Linked DNA regions of Homo sapiens. The protein of the gene in region 2 interacts with the protein of the main gene of each other region in a pairwise test. Each region holds a gene or a part of one and is shown on either strand. Other genes may lie near its edges.

Region 1 (3,600 bases), on a different chromosome or scaffold from region 2:
TCCCACCTCAAGCCTCCCGAGGAGCTGGGATTACAGGCGCACACCACCATGCCTGGCTAATTTTTGTATTTTTAGTAGAGACAGAGTTTCACCATGTTGGCCAGGCTGGTCTCGAACTCCTGACCTCAGGTGATCCGCCCACTTCGGCCTCCCAAAGTGTTGGGATTATAGGTGTGAGCCATAGTGCCCAGCCTCTTTTTTTTTTTTTTTTTAACTCACAGAACATGAAATTATATGGTTTTAATAATGCAAAGCTACTTCCATGGGGCTACAGCAGAGAGAAAATAAGGCTAAAATGGAACTTAAAGCTCAAAACATTTCTACATGGCTGTTTACAGGGGCAGGTGGAGGGAGTCCTCCCTCTGCATTAATAGAAAACAAAAACAATTGGGCCTATTCGGCATTGTTGGAAATGTTCTATGTCTTGATCTGGTGGGTTTTTACCTGTGTACAATATATGTACACACGTAAAAATTCATTTAGCTGTACACATAATTTCTATGACTTTTTTGTATGTAAATTATACCTCAATGGAAAGGTTTTAAAATGGACTTAATTAGGCCCAGCATGGTGGCTCACGCCTGTAATCCCAGCATTTGGGGAGGCTGAGGTGGGCGGATTGCTTGAGCCCAGGAGTTCAAGACCAGCCTGGGCAACATGATGAAACCTCATCTCTACAAAAAAATACAAAAATTATCTTGGCGTGGTGGCGCACGTCTGTAGTCCCAGATGCTCTGAAGGCTGAGGAAAGAGGAGGATGGCTTGAACCCGGGAGGCAGAGCAGAGGTAGCAGTGAGCCGAGACTGCGCCACTGCACTCCAGCCTGGGTGACAGAGCCAGACTCTGTCTCAAAAAAAAAAAAAAAAAAAAGTTAATTAGACGGGTGTGGTGGTGCGCGCCTGTAGTCCTAGATAATTTCGAGGCTAAGGGGGAAGATCTCTTGAGCCCAGGTGTTCGAGGCTGCAGTGAGCTATGATTGGGCCACTGCACTCCTACTTGGGCAACAGATAGAGGCCTTGTCTTAAAAAAAAAATTTTAAAAAGGCCGGGCACGGTGGCTCACGCCTGTAATCCCAGCACTTTGGGAGGCCGAGGCAGGCGGATCACCAGGTCAGGAGATCGAGACCATCCTGGTTAACACGGGGAAACCCCGTCTCTACTTAAAATACAAAAAATTAGCCGGGTGTGGTGGTGGGTGCCTGTAGTCCCAGCTACTTGGGAGGCTGAGGCAGAAGAATGGCATGAACCCGGGAGTCGGAGCTTGCAGTGAGCCAAGATCGTGCCACCGCACTCCAGCCTGAGCGACAGTGCGAGACTCCGTCTCAAAAAAAAAAAAAAAAAAAAAAAAAAGACTTGAGAGAAAGTGAATTTCCATCCAGGAAGATTAAGGATCCCCTTCTGAGTACTTTAAAAAGGTTATCTATTTGTGCTGAGGGAAGAGGTAGAATATTAGGGAACCAATAAGATAACTTCTCTTTTGGAGAGGTTTCCAAAGTCCTTCTGTCCTCAGAAATTCTCATGTTCCTCCCCAGGGACAGAAAAATCCTCCTTGCTGTCTAATCTCCATCTCTCCTATTGCAATGCTAGCCACTCCCTCTGCCCTCATGGAGCCCAGCCTTTCCCCTGGCCTCAGACAAAATCTCTTTAGAGCCCTGTAATTTGGAGTGTTGAGAGAGATTCCATTTCAACCTTTTCACCATCCGTTCTCTGCCCCTCACCCTATTCTCTTCTTCTTGGGGATGTCAATTCCTGTTCTGAGCCCGCCCCCCACCCAGGCCCTTTTCCGGTGGTATGTGCCAGCCGGTCCTGCATCCCACATCCCCAGCTGTTGACATTTCATTGCCATTACCCACAGAATAAAGAAAGGGGCCCTGTTATTCAACAATAGGGGAAAAGACAGAGACAATGGGAAATTGTGCTTCCGATGGGGTGGGGACTGAGAAGGAAAGGACAGACAGACAGACAGACAGGGGGTTGTACAGAAGAGGTCCGGTTTCTTGAAGCAGCTGGAAGTCCTGGATAGTTCCCACCTGAAAGTCTGTTTGCAAAGGCAATGCGCACTCAGGCACCAGAGGGCAGAGGTGAGTACTCTGTTGTGGGGAGAGGGGAGATGGGGATGCTGCTTAGATGAGGCGCATATGGAAAGGGAGGCAGCTCGAGCTTGGCAGTTATGGATCTTTGAGCCACATTTAGAGTTCATCCCCATCCCCATCAGTCCAACACCTTCATATCCACCGATCAATCTACACCTCTCTGGTTCAAAGGCATCGAGAAAAAATGAAGCACCTCACTTTCTGCACTCTTCCAGGTCATCATTCCTGGGTTGCTCCCTTTATTCCACTCCCCTTCATGGGTTCCCAGCCCTCATCCCAACCCCAGCATCTTCCCCTGGTCCCGGAATAGTGATTTCCACAGATATAGTCACAGGGCTGGACACAGGTCTCTTAACATGGCTTAGTGGACTGATGGGGGTGGGGGTCGTTCTTGGCACCTTGGCTTCTTCTTTGAGCACAGGACAGAAGCTTTTCCTCAAAGGTGCAAAAGGAGCAACTGTGTTGAACAGGGGCTCAAGTTCCAGGGTTTTAAGGTGCTTGGAACTCCCAGGAGCCTGGCAAACCTTCATCCAGAACCTCTTCCTCAAGCAAGACAAAAAGCTGCTAAGCACTGCTCCCTCCGTCTCTGTGAAGAGACCAGCTTCTAACAGGTAGGCAATGGGCTGCTGACTACTCTCATTTTCTGTAAGAGGTATGAAGAGCATGTGTGTGCACTGTTTTGAAATGCAGAAATATAGATTAGTGATTAAGCGCTTGAGCCTCACTGTCAGATCTGTATTCAAATCCCAGCAAACCCTTCCTCTTACTAGCTGTGTGACCTCATTTCCTAAAATAGGTGCACCTTGGTTTCAGCATGTGTACAGTAGGATTTATAATTGTTTCTGCCTCAGGATTGCTGGGAGGAGTAAATATAAAAATATACATGTAAAGTGCTTAGAGCAGTGTCAGGCACATTCAATTTTAAACGTGTTCATTTGAGCTATCATTATTGTTGGTCTCAGTCAATCTCAGTCCTCACGATCATTCTTACTTATCAAGTTCTCCTATAAAGAAGTGGTTCTCTTGCTCATGTTCGCATCCCAGATACTTTCACCTTTAACCACTGAGAAGTTTTCTATGCATAACCTCCGTTTCTCCTACTGCAAACTGGTCTTTGGTCCTCATTTGCAGAAAGATGGAGCTCCATTCTTTAGATTTCTGGCAACTTCTCAGGGTGCTTCCTCCATCTCCCCATTCCCCATCCCATCTTCCCATGAATCCTTAATGTAAGTTCATTAAACCATACACACTTATTTAGCACCTACTATGTACCAGAAACTATGCTGGGAACTGGAGATAACAGCTAACACATAGACAGCACTTATTACATTCCAGACACTATTTCAAGCATTTTGCGTATATCAATTTATTTATTCCTCACAACTACTCAGTGAGGTAGGTGTGCTATTATTCCCCACATTTCACTGATGAGGACACTGAGGCAGAGAGAGGTTAAGGAACTTGTGCATGATAATTAACTTATGCATAGTCATGCAATTAGGAAATAG
Region 2 (3,829 bases):
TTGTTGCACAAGTTCAACGATGTGGTGTGGCATGTGAGCTGGTCCATCACAGCCAACATCCTGGCTGTCTCTGGTGGAGACAATAAGGTACATACCCATTCCCCGTGGCATGGTGGACACAGCCTGTTGGTCTTCACCCCGCCCACTAGAGAGGGCACTTGACATTCCCATCTGACTGCAGGCTGGGCAGGAGCCTTAGCCAGGACTGCGTTTTGAGTGTGCCTCTTAGTTACATCATTAATGTCACAGCCCCTGAGGTAGTATTAACACGTCCCCCTTTCACAGATGAGGAAAGAAGCTGACAGAGGCGATTTGACTTGCATGGGGGTCCCAAAACTATGAGGTGGCAGAGCCAGTCAGGCCCATCACCCTACTAAGCATTTGGTCACCTCATGGTGATGTTCAGTTAGCTGTGCCAAAAAGGCAAGTGTATAAGAACCCATAAACAGAAGAAGATTGGGGATATTTTTTGTCCATAACACTGAAAAGGCTTTTTAAAAACCTTTAGAGTTTATGAATACTTGTTATGCTGGTAAGAGGCAGGTACACAGTGGGTGCACTGGAAGAGTTTGCATTTTGCAGCTGAAAGAGTTCTGGAGACCAGCTGCTCAGGGACCCAAATGTACTTCACACAACTGGACTGTGCAGTTAAAAGTGGCCAAGGTCATTTTATGTGACGTGTATTTTACAATTAGAAGGAAAAAAGCTACCCGCAGAAAGGAAGCAGTAACAAGCCATAGCCATCTGCCCAGCTGAATTCCCCTATAAGACAGAGGATCTCTAACGCCGCAGGGTCAGTTCCACGTGGAGTGGCTGTGCTGCGTTTTCAGGCACATCTGCTCTGCGCCTGAAGTGCGAGTTGGTCTGGATCCTGCCAGCCCTTGCTGCTTCTCTCCCTTGCCTATGTTGGTCTTTTACTGTTTCCCAGTGGCCACTTTGGCTCCATGTCTTACCTTTCATTTGTGTGGCTCACGGCACAACCAACACAGGCAAGGCAGAGAAGCAGCTGGTCTCCAGAACTCTTTTCAGCTGCAAAATTGAAACTCTGTACCCATTAAATAACTCCCTTCCCCATTGCCCCTCCCCAGCCCTGGCAGCCACCCTTCTCCTTTCTGTCTATGTGAATGTGACTGCTCTAGCGACCTATCTAAGTGGAATCATACAGTATTTGTCCTTTTGCGACTATGTCACTAGCAGTATGCCCTTAAGGTTCCTCCATGCTGTACGTAGCATGTGTCAGAATTCCTTCCTTTGTAAAGCTAAGTAGTGTTGCATTGTATAGACAGCCCACACCCTGTTTCTACACTTATTCCTCCACCAAAGGGCACCTGGGCTGCTGCCACCTCTTAGCTATTGCGAATAGTGTGGCTGTGAACATGGGTGTGCAGATCTTGAGAGCCTCTGCAGGCGGCTTTTCTGGCCGAGGGTCCCTTTCATCTACAGTGGTCCCAGAAAGATCTAGCAGGCCCCCTCTCAAAGCCATATTTCTAGTGAGTGCCAGAGTCAGGACCAGAACCCAGGTTGATGGCACTCAGGGCAGACCAAGGGACCCAGATTGCCTCAAGCAGGCCCCCAGTGACTTTTTTACAAGGCTGTAAGCAAGTGCCTGGCTGTGCACGCAGTGTTGTGGGGCCCGTCACTGTGCATTTAGGCTTCTTGCTCTTCTTTACAAGCCTGTTTCCTTTCGCTGTCTCCATAGCACCCTTACCTAAAGGACTTAGTATGTTTTCAATCCCAGAGCATTCTGCAGTGTGTTGAGTGAATAGTTTGTCCCTAAAGCAAGAGTTCTTAAAATCAAAATCGTTATTTTCATTTTTAATCAAACTAATATATGTACATAGGTTTAGATTGTTTTTGTTTTTTGTTTTGTTTTTTGAGATCGAGTCTCGCTCTGTCGTCCAGGCTGGAGTGCAGTGGCGCAGTCTCGGCTCACTGCAACCTCCGCCTCCTGGGTTCAAGCGATTCTCCTGCCTCAGCCTCCCCAGTAGCTGGGAGATTACAGGTGGCTGCTAGTTTTTTTGTGTGTATTTTTAGTAGAGATGAGATGGGGTTTCACCAGTTCAGGCTGGTCGCGAACTCCTGGCCTCAGGTGATCCACCCATCTCAGCCTCCCAAAGTGCTGAGATTACAGGCGTGAGCCACCATGCCCGACCTAGACTGATTTTTTTTAATGCAGCCTCCTAATTTTCTCTCCAGGGGCAAACCTTTTCAGCTCTTAGCTATTTCTTATACAGTTTACTTCAGTGTAGAAACAACATATTGAACTGTTACCTTCCTCTACCACAGTAGTTTTCAAACTGCAGTGTTGTTAAACCTGTTAAAACAGATTGCCAGCCCCACCCCCAGAGCTTCCTAATCAGTTGTTCCAGGCCCCAAGAATCTGCAGTTGTAGCAAGCTCCCAGGTGACCGATGCTCTGCTCTGGTCTGGGGACCACACTTTGCGAACCCTGCTCCCCGCCACCCCATATCCTCTCGCTGTAGCTCTGTCACAGTTTGCTGAAAACAGTATCCTGTGTTGACATCATCATCCACAGCTGCTGTTATTGTTACTCCTTTTTTTCTGTGAGTTTTTATTCCTGGACTCTCATTTTGGTGAGATTTCAGTGGAGGAGGGACATGCTCTGTTCACCCACAAGCCTCTGGGCAGTGGTTCTTGATGAGGATGAGGCTCATATTTAGGGGACAGCAGAGGGAAGGGCACAGACCCGTGATAATCTGCTTGTGCACTGACTCGCAGGTGACCCTGTGGAAGGAGTCAGTTGATGGGCAGTGGGTGTGCATCAGTGATGTCAACAAGGGCCAGGGCTCCGTATCAGCATCAGTGACAGAGGGCCAGCAGAACGAGCAGTGACAAGACAGGTGGGGCCTGGCTCCCCACCCGCCAGCTCCAGGACTGCCCCTTCCTGGGCCAACTAACCAGACAACTGGGAAGAGCCCCCAACTCCAACAGGATTATTTTCCCAGGAGGAGTTACAGATGCAGCCACAGATTGATCATCTGCCTTAACGTGATCGGAGATGCTTTGTAATCTACTGTCCAGCTGAAAGCACTCATGTTACGAGGAAGAAACTACAAGTGATGTTCAAATCTATTTTGGGTCATTTTTATGTACCTTTGGGTTCAGGCATTATTTGGGGGGTTTTGTTTCCAAAGGAACTAAATAAAGTCATATTGCTTATAATTCCTGCTGCGTTATCCTAACCACCCCACCCCACCAGCTCAGTTTGACTCTTGTCGGTCCACGCACTAGAACAAACTATTCACAAAGGCCACGGCTGTGATGGCCTGGCTTAACCCCACGCACAAAGGTGGCTTGTCACTGCATGAGCATCTCTGATTCAGTTTATACTGAAAGCACCATACAGAGCACTGGACTCAGCCTTTGGTGACAAGGACTGTAGCCCTGGGTCTGCTACTTACCCTCTCGGTACACATCCTGTTCTGCAGAATGGGACTAATACAGTCTGCCCTACAGGATGGCTGCAAGATTCAAACACGCTAGTGCATCTGGTGACCTACAAAATGCCACGCAGGTGCAACGTGGTATTAACCAAACACCAATAGTTAAGATGCTGGCCCAGAAAGTGGGCACGATTCATTTAGTTTATTGACCCTGTCAGGAAAAGGAGGGCCCCATGATGGGAGACCTAACTGACCCTGAACCAGGTATCACCTTTCAGCGGAGGCCCTGTGACCCTGACAATCGCCATAGCCATCAGTGAGCCTGCGGTGAGCCAGACCCTACACTGGATCTTTCACACATTCGCTAATTTAAGCAACACGAGAACCCCGTGTGGGTGTACCCAGTTCACTGATGAGGAAGCGCTC
Region 3 (3,829 bases), on a different chromosome or scaffold from region 2:
TTATATAAAGCCTAAATAAAAATTAGAGCTAGAAAACTTTTTAGGGGTACCGAGGTAGGGTACCTCTAGGCTTTTTACATTATATCTGCTGTTCTGCATACTCACTACTTAACAAACACACACAGGATGGACTTCACCATCTAATGCCTTCATTTACATGCTCAATGTGACTGCTAGCAGTGAAGACAGCTAGTTGTTATAAGCCCATAGTTATCACCAACACAAAAAATCTCGACACAGAAGCAACAAATGAGAAGTTGCACAGTGGAGGACTGTGTGAGCAGATAAAGTTCAATCTGTCTAAATCTTCATAGTTGAAATCCTAAATAGGCCTGTCAGATAATTACTTTAATGGTTATCATTCTTTCTACCCTTCCTTCTTTCCAAAAACTCAAATTTGATCTCAGTTCTGAGGTTATTAAAGCAGTTCTATATAGTACTGCTCACTATGTAGAAATGTAATATTAAAAAAAAAACAAAAAACAAAAAGATTTGGGTCAAACATTCCTGAGCAACTTTAACAAACCCAGGTCCTCCAAATCATTCTCCAAAGCTTCTGTCACAGTCTACAAGACAAACTAAATTAACCGTAAATGTTTAATGTGTATTATAACTAGCATATTAACTTTGGATAGGTCAAAATTTTATGTGCCATTTATATACTTGGTTATTTCTGGTACAGCCTTAAATTAACCAATCCATACAGTACATTAAGCCCACTGTAAATAGCTTACAGCATAATTTTTACTATTTTCTAAATGATTGGAAAGGTTTGTAATTTATCTTTGTTTTATAACAATATTCATATTTTGGCTTATTAGAAAGCCAAGAAGGCAATACCATTCTTAAAAGAAAACATGATGCAATTTTGACCCAATCTGAGGGTTATTATTATAGTAATAGAAAACACACATACGGCGTTTACTATGTATCAACATTATTCTAAGCGTTTTATATGAATTTGCTCAGTCAATGCTCATAATCCTATAAGGCAGCTGCTATGATTACCCACATTTTACAGGTAAGGATATTAGCACAAAGAGATTAGGTTACTTAACCAAGGTCACACCACGACTAAGTAATAACACTGGAGTTTAAATGCAAGGAATCTGGCTTCTGTGTCTGTGCTCTTAACCGCTTTGGAATTCTGCCTGTGCTATGCTGTACTGATCATTTGTTCCCATGAAGTTCAACTCTTACTCTATGAATGGTCATGTCTATTATACTCCTACTATATCCAACTGTAAATTTCTAGTTTTCTTATTTGTTGTTCCTACCTAATATTTCAATTTAATAAGAGATATCAGATTTATAATCTGCAGTCATTAAGAACTTAGTTCTTAATAATATAGTAAGCTAGTTATTATAACCTATAGTAGAGTAAATGAGACTCTAAATTATATACTTTAATGATGACCATAAAAAGCCATTTTAAATTGGAATAAATCCAATTAAAAAAGCAAAAAACAAACACGTTTTAAAATAAGCTCTAAAGATTTATATGGTTGTCAACATACCTTATATTCATTTTTATCCTGAAGATCTGAAGTAAATAATCTAATTTTCATATCAGCAGCTGAAGTACAAAATCTGGAAGCAAAAAAACAAAAATATACCAATTTTTAGCCTTTGTAAGTGAAAGGTCTCCCCCTCCCCCCCATCCTTCCCTTCAGATCACTGAAGCTTTTATCATAACTCATAATCATGCTTTTTATGGAGGGGGAAAGAAGAATGTTGTGGCTCTACTGTAAAAAGTATTATACAGCCATCACAGAAAGTAGGAGTCATATTATTTTATTTTGAGAACACACAAAAGGTTAGTCTATTCTGGATGTGCTTCTTCAGTAATAAAAGTGTAGAATTTTACACTAAATCAGCACTTGAATTTAATTTTAAACGTTTTCTTAAAAGCATAAAAGGATGGATTTTAAAAAGTATCTTCATTTTAGCCAGGTCACCAAGACATATTAAAAATATTGTTATACATCTACCTTAGTCTTTGCCCTCTTCTGTTATCCATAATCCTTAGTTTTTTCTATTCCTCCAAATAAATCAGATGAAGTAAGATACTATTTTTATAACTATAAAAGCTGATAATATTTATACCTACTAAAAGCTGGAGTATTATTTATACTTTAAACATTTAAAACATGTTTTTCAGTAGTTAATCAATGGATTATTAAATTAAAAAACAAAACCTAAGCAGCAAACACTCCTTTTTTTTTCCTTTGAGACAGACTTGCTCTGTTGCCCAGGCTGGAGTGCAGTGGTATGATTTCATACCACTGCAGCCTCCACCTCCCAGGTTCAAACGATTCTCCTACCTCAGCCTCCCAAGTAGCTGGGATTACAGGCGCCCACCACCACACGTGGCTAATTTTTGTATTTTTAGTAGAGACAGGGTTTCACCACGTTGGCCAGGCTGGTCTCGAACTCCTGACCTCAGATGATCCGCCCATCTTGGCCTCCCAAAGTGCTGGGATTACAGGCATGAGCCACTGCGCCTGGCCAACAACTACTTTTTAAACTAGTTTATCTTTAATCCTAAATTTTCTAGATTCTCAGGATGTGAGACAATGGCTGAGAAAAAAATTTAAATTATATTTATATACTGAAAAACAAAGTTTATTTTCAATTCTTTGGTAGAAAGAGTATCATACACAAATCTAAATTTATTCTTTAGTTTGAGTACAGTGAGCCATTTTTTCTCAACTAAAGGCTCTTAATCCACAGACCCTGATGTGTTGGTAGACCTTTGCTACTACACCCCTTTCCAGTAATTTGTCAAGAGTTGTTAGAGAAAACAGATCAAAGCCACCAGGGAATGATTCTTTGTCCAAGGTCTTCTCAGAGGCAAAATTAAAGTTGTAGTGGAATAAAGCATGTCTTCTTTCAAGAAATGTCTGTCTACTCAGGTTCTTTGCCCATTTTAAAATATAACTGTTTTCTTGTGATTGAGTAATTTGAGTTCCCTACATATTGTTGATATTAGCCCCTTATCAAGATGTATGATTTGCAAATATTTTCTCACAATCTGTAGGTTGCATCTTCACTCTGTTGTTTCCTTTGCTGTGCAGCTCTTTAGTTTAATACAATTCCACTTGTCTAGTTTTGCTTTTGTTTCCTGTGCTTTTAGGGTCAGATCCAAAAAATTCACTGTTGTGGAGATTAATGTTGTGAAGCTTTTTCTGTTTTCTTCTAGCCATTTTACAGTTTAAGGTCTTAAGTTTAAGTCTTTAATCCAATTTCAGTTGATTCTGCATATGGAGTGAAATAACGGTTCAATTTCATTCTTCTGTGTGTAAATACAGTTTTGCAACATCATTCATTGAAGACACTGTCCTTTCTTCATTTTATGTTCTTGGCACCTTTGTAAATAATCGATTGACCATAAATGCATGAATTTATTTCTGGGCTCTCTATCTTATTCTATTGGTCAAGGTATCTCTTTTTATGTTAGTACCATGCTGTCTTGAATACCATAGCTTTTATTTTGAAATCAGGTAGTGTGATGCCTCCGGGTTTGTTCTTTTTTTTGCTCAAAATTGCTTTGGCTATCTGGGGTGTTTTATAATTTCATATAAATTTTTTAATTGATTTTTCTATTTCTGTGAAGAATGACATTGGAGTTTTGATAGATAGGCATTGCATTGAATCTGTGGATTGCTTTGAGGAGTAAGAACATTTTAACAATATTAATTCATCCAATCCATGAACACAGGATATCTTTCCAATTATTTGTGCCAAGTTCAATGTCTTTCATCAATGTTTTATCGTTTCTGTGTACAGATCTTTTACCAACTCAGTTAAATTTATTCCCAAGATATTT

What was found.
Region 1: the proteins of SEC13 (region 2) and HAPLN2 interact in binary tests that used the Homo sapiens proteins (3 or more experiments, as listed by UniProt).
Region 3: the proteins of SEC13 (region 2) and NUP37 interact in binary tests that used the Homo sapiens proteins (3 or more experiments, as listed by UniProt).

Annotation. Positions count from the first base shown.
Region 1 is NC_000001.11:156,617,456-156,621,055, forward strand, and holds the start of HAPLN2 (hyaluronan and proteoglycan link protein 2 precursor), read left to right. Parts: upstream 1-1,959; 5' UTR 1,960-2,052; coding exon of another isoform or gene 2,053-2,080; intron 2,081-2,513; coding exon of another isoform or gene 2,514-2,703; intron 2,704-3,600. UniProt on the Homo sapiens protein: Mediates a firm binding of versican V2 to hyaluronic acid. May play a pivotal role in the formation of the hyaluronan-associated matrix in the central nervous system (CNS) which facilitates neuronal conduction and general structural stabilization.
Region 2 is NC_000003.12:10,300,284-10,304,112, reverse strand, and holds the end of SEC13 (protein SEC13 homolog), read left to right. Parts: coding exon 1-87; intron 88-2,738; coding exon 2,739-2,852; 3' UTR 2,853-2,965; coding exon of another isoform or gene 2,966-3,007; 3' UTR 3,008-3,182; downstream 3,183-3,829. UniProt on the Homo sapiens protein: Functions as a component of the nuclear pore complex (NPC) and the COPII coat. At the endoplasmic reticulum, SEC13 is involved in the biogenesis of COPII-coated vesicles.
Region 3 is NC_000012.12:102,099,515-102,103,343, forward strand, and holds part of NUP37 (nucleoporin Nup37), read right to left. Parts: intron 1,591-3,829; coding exon 1,518-1,590; intron 1-1,517. UniProt on the Homo sapiens protein: Component of the Nup107-160 subcomplex of the nuclear pore complex (NPC). The Nup107-160 subcomplex is required for the assembly of a functional NPC.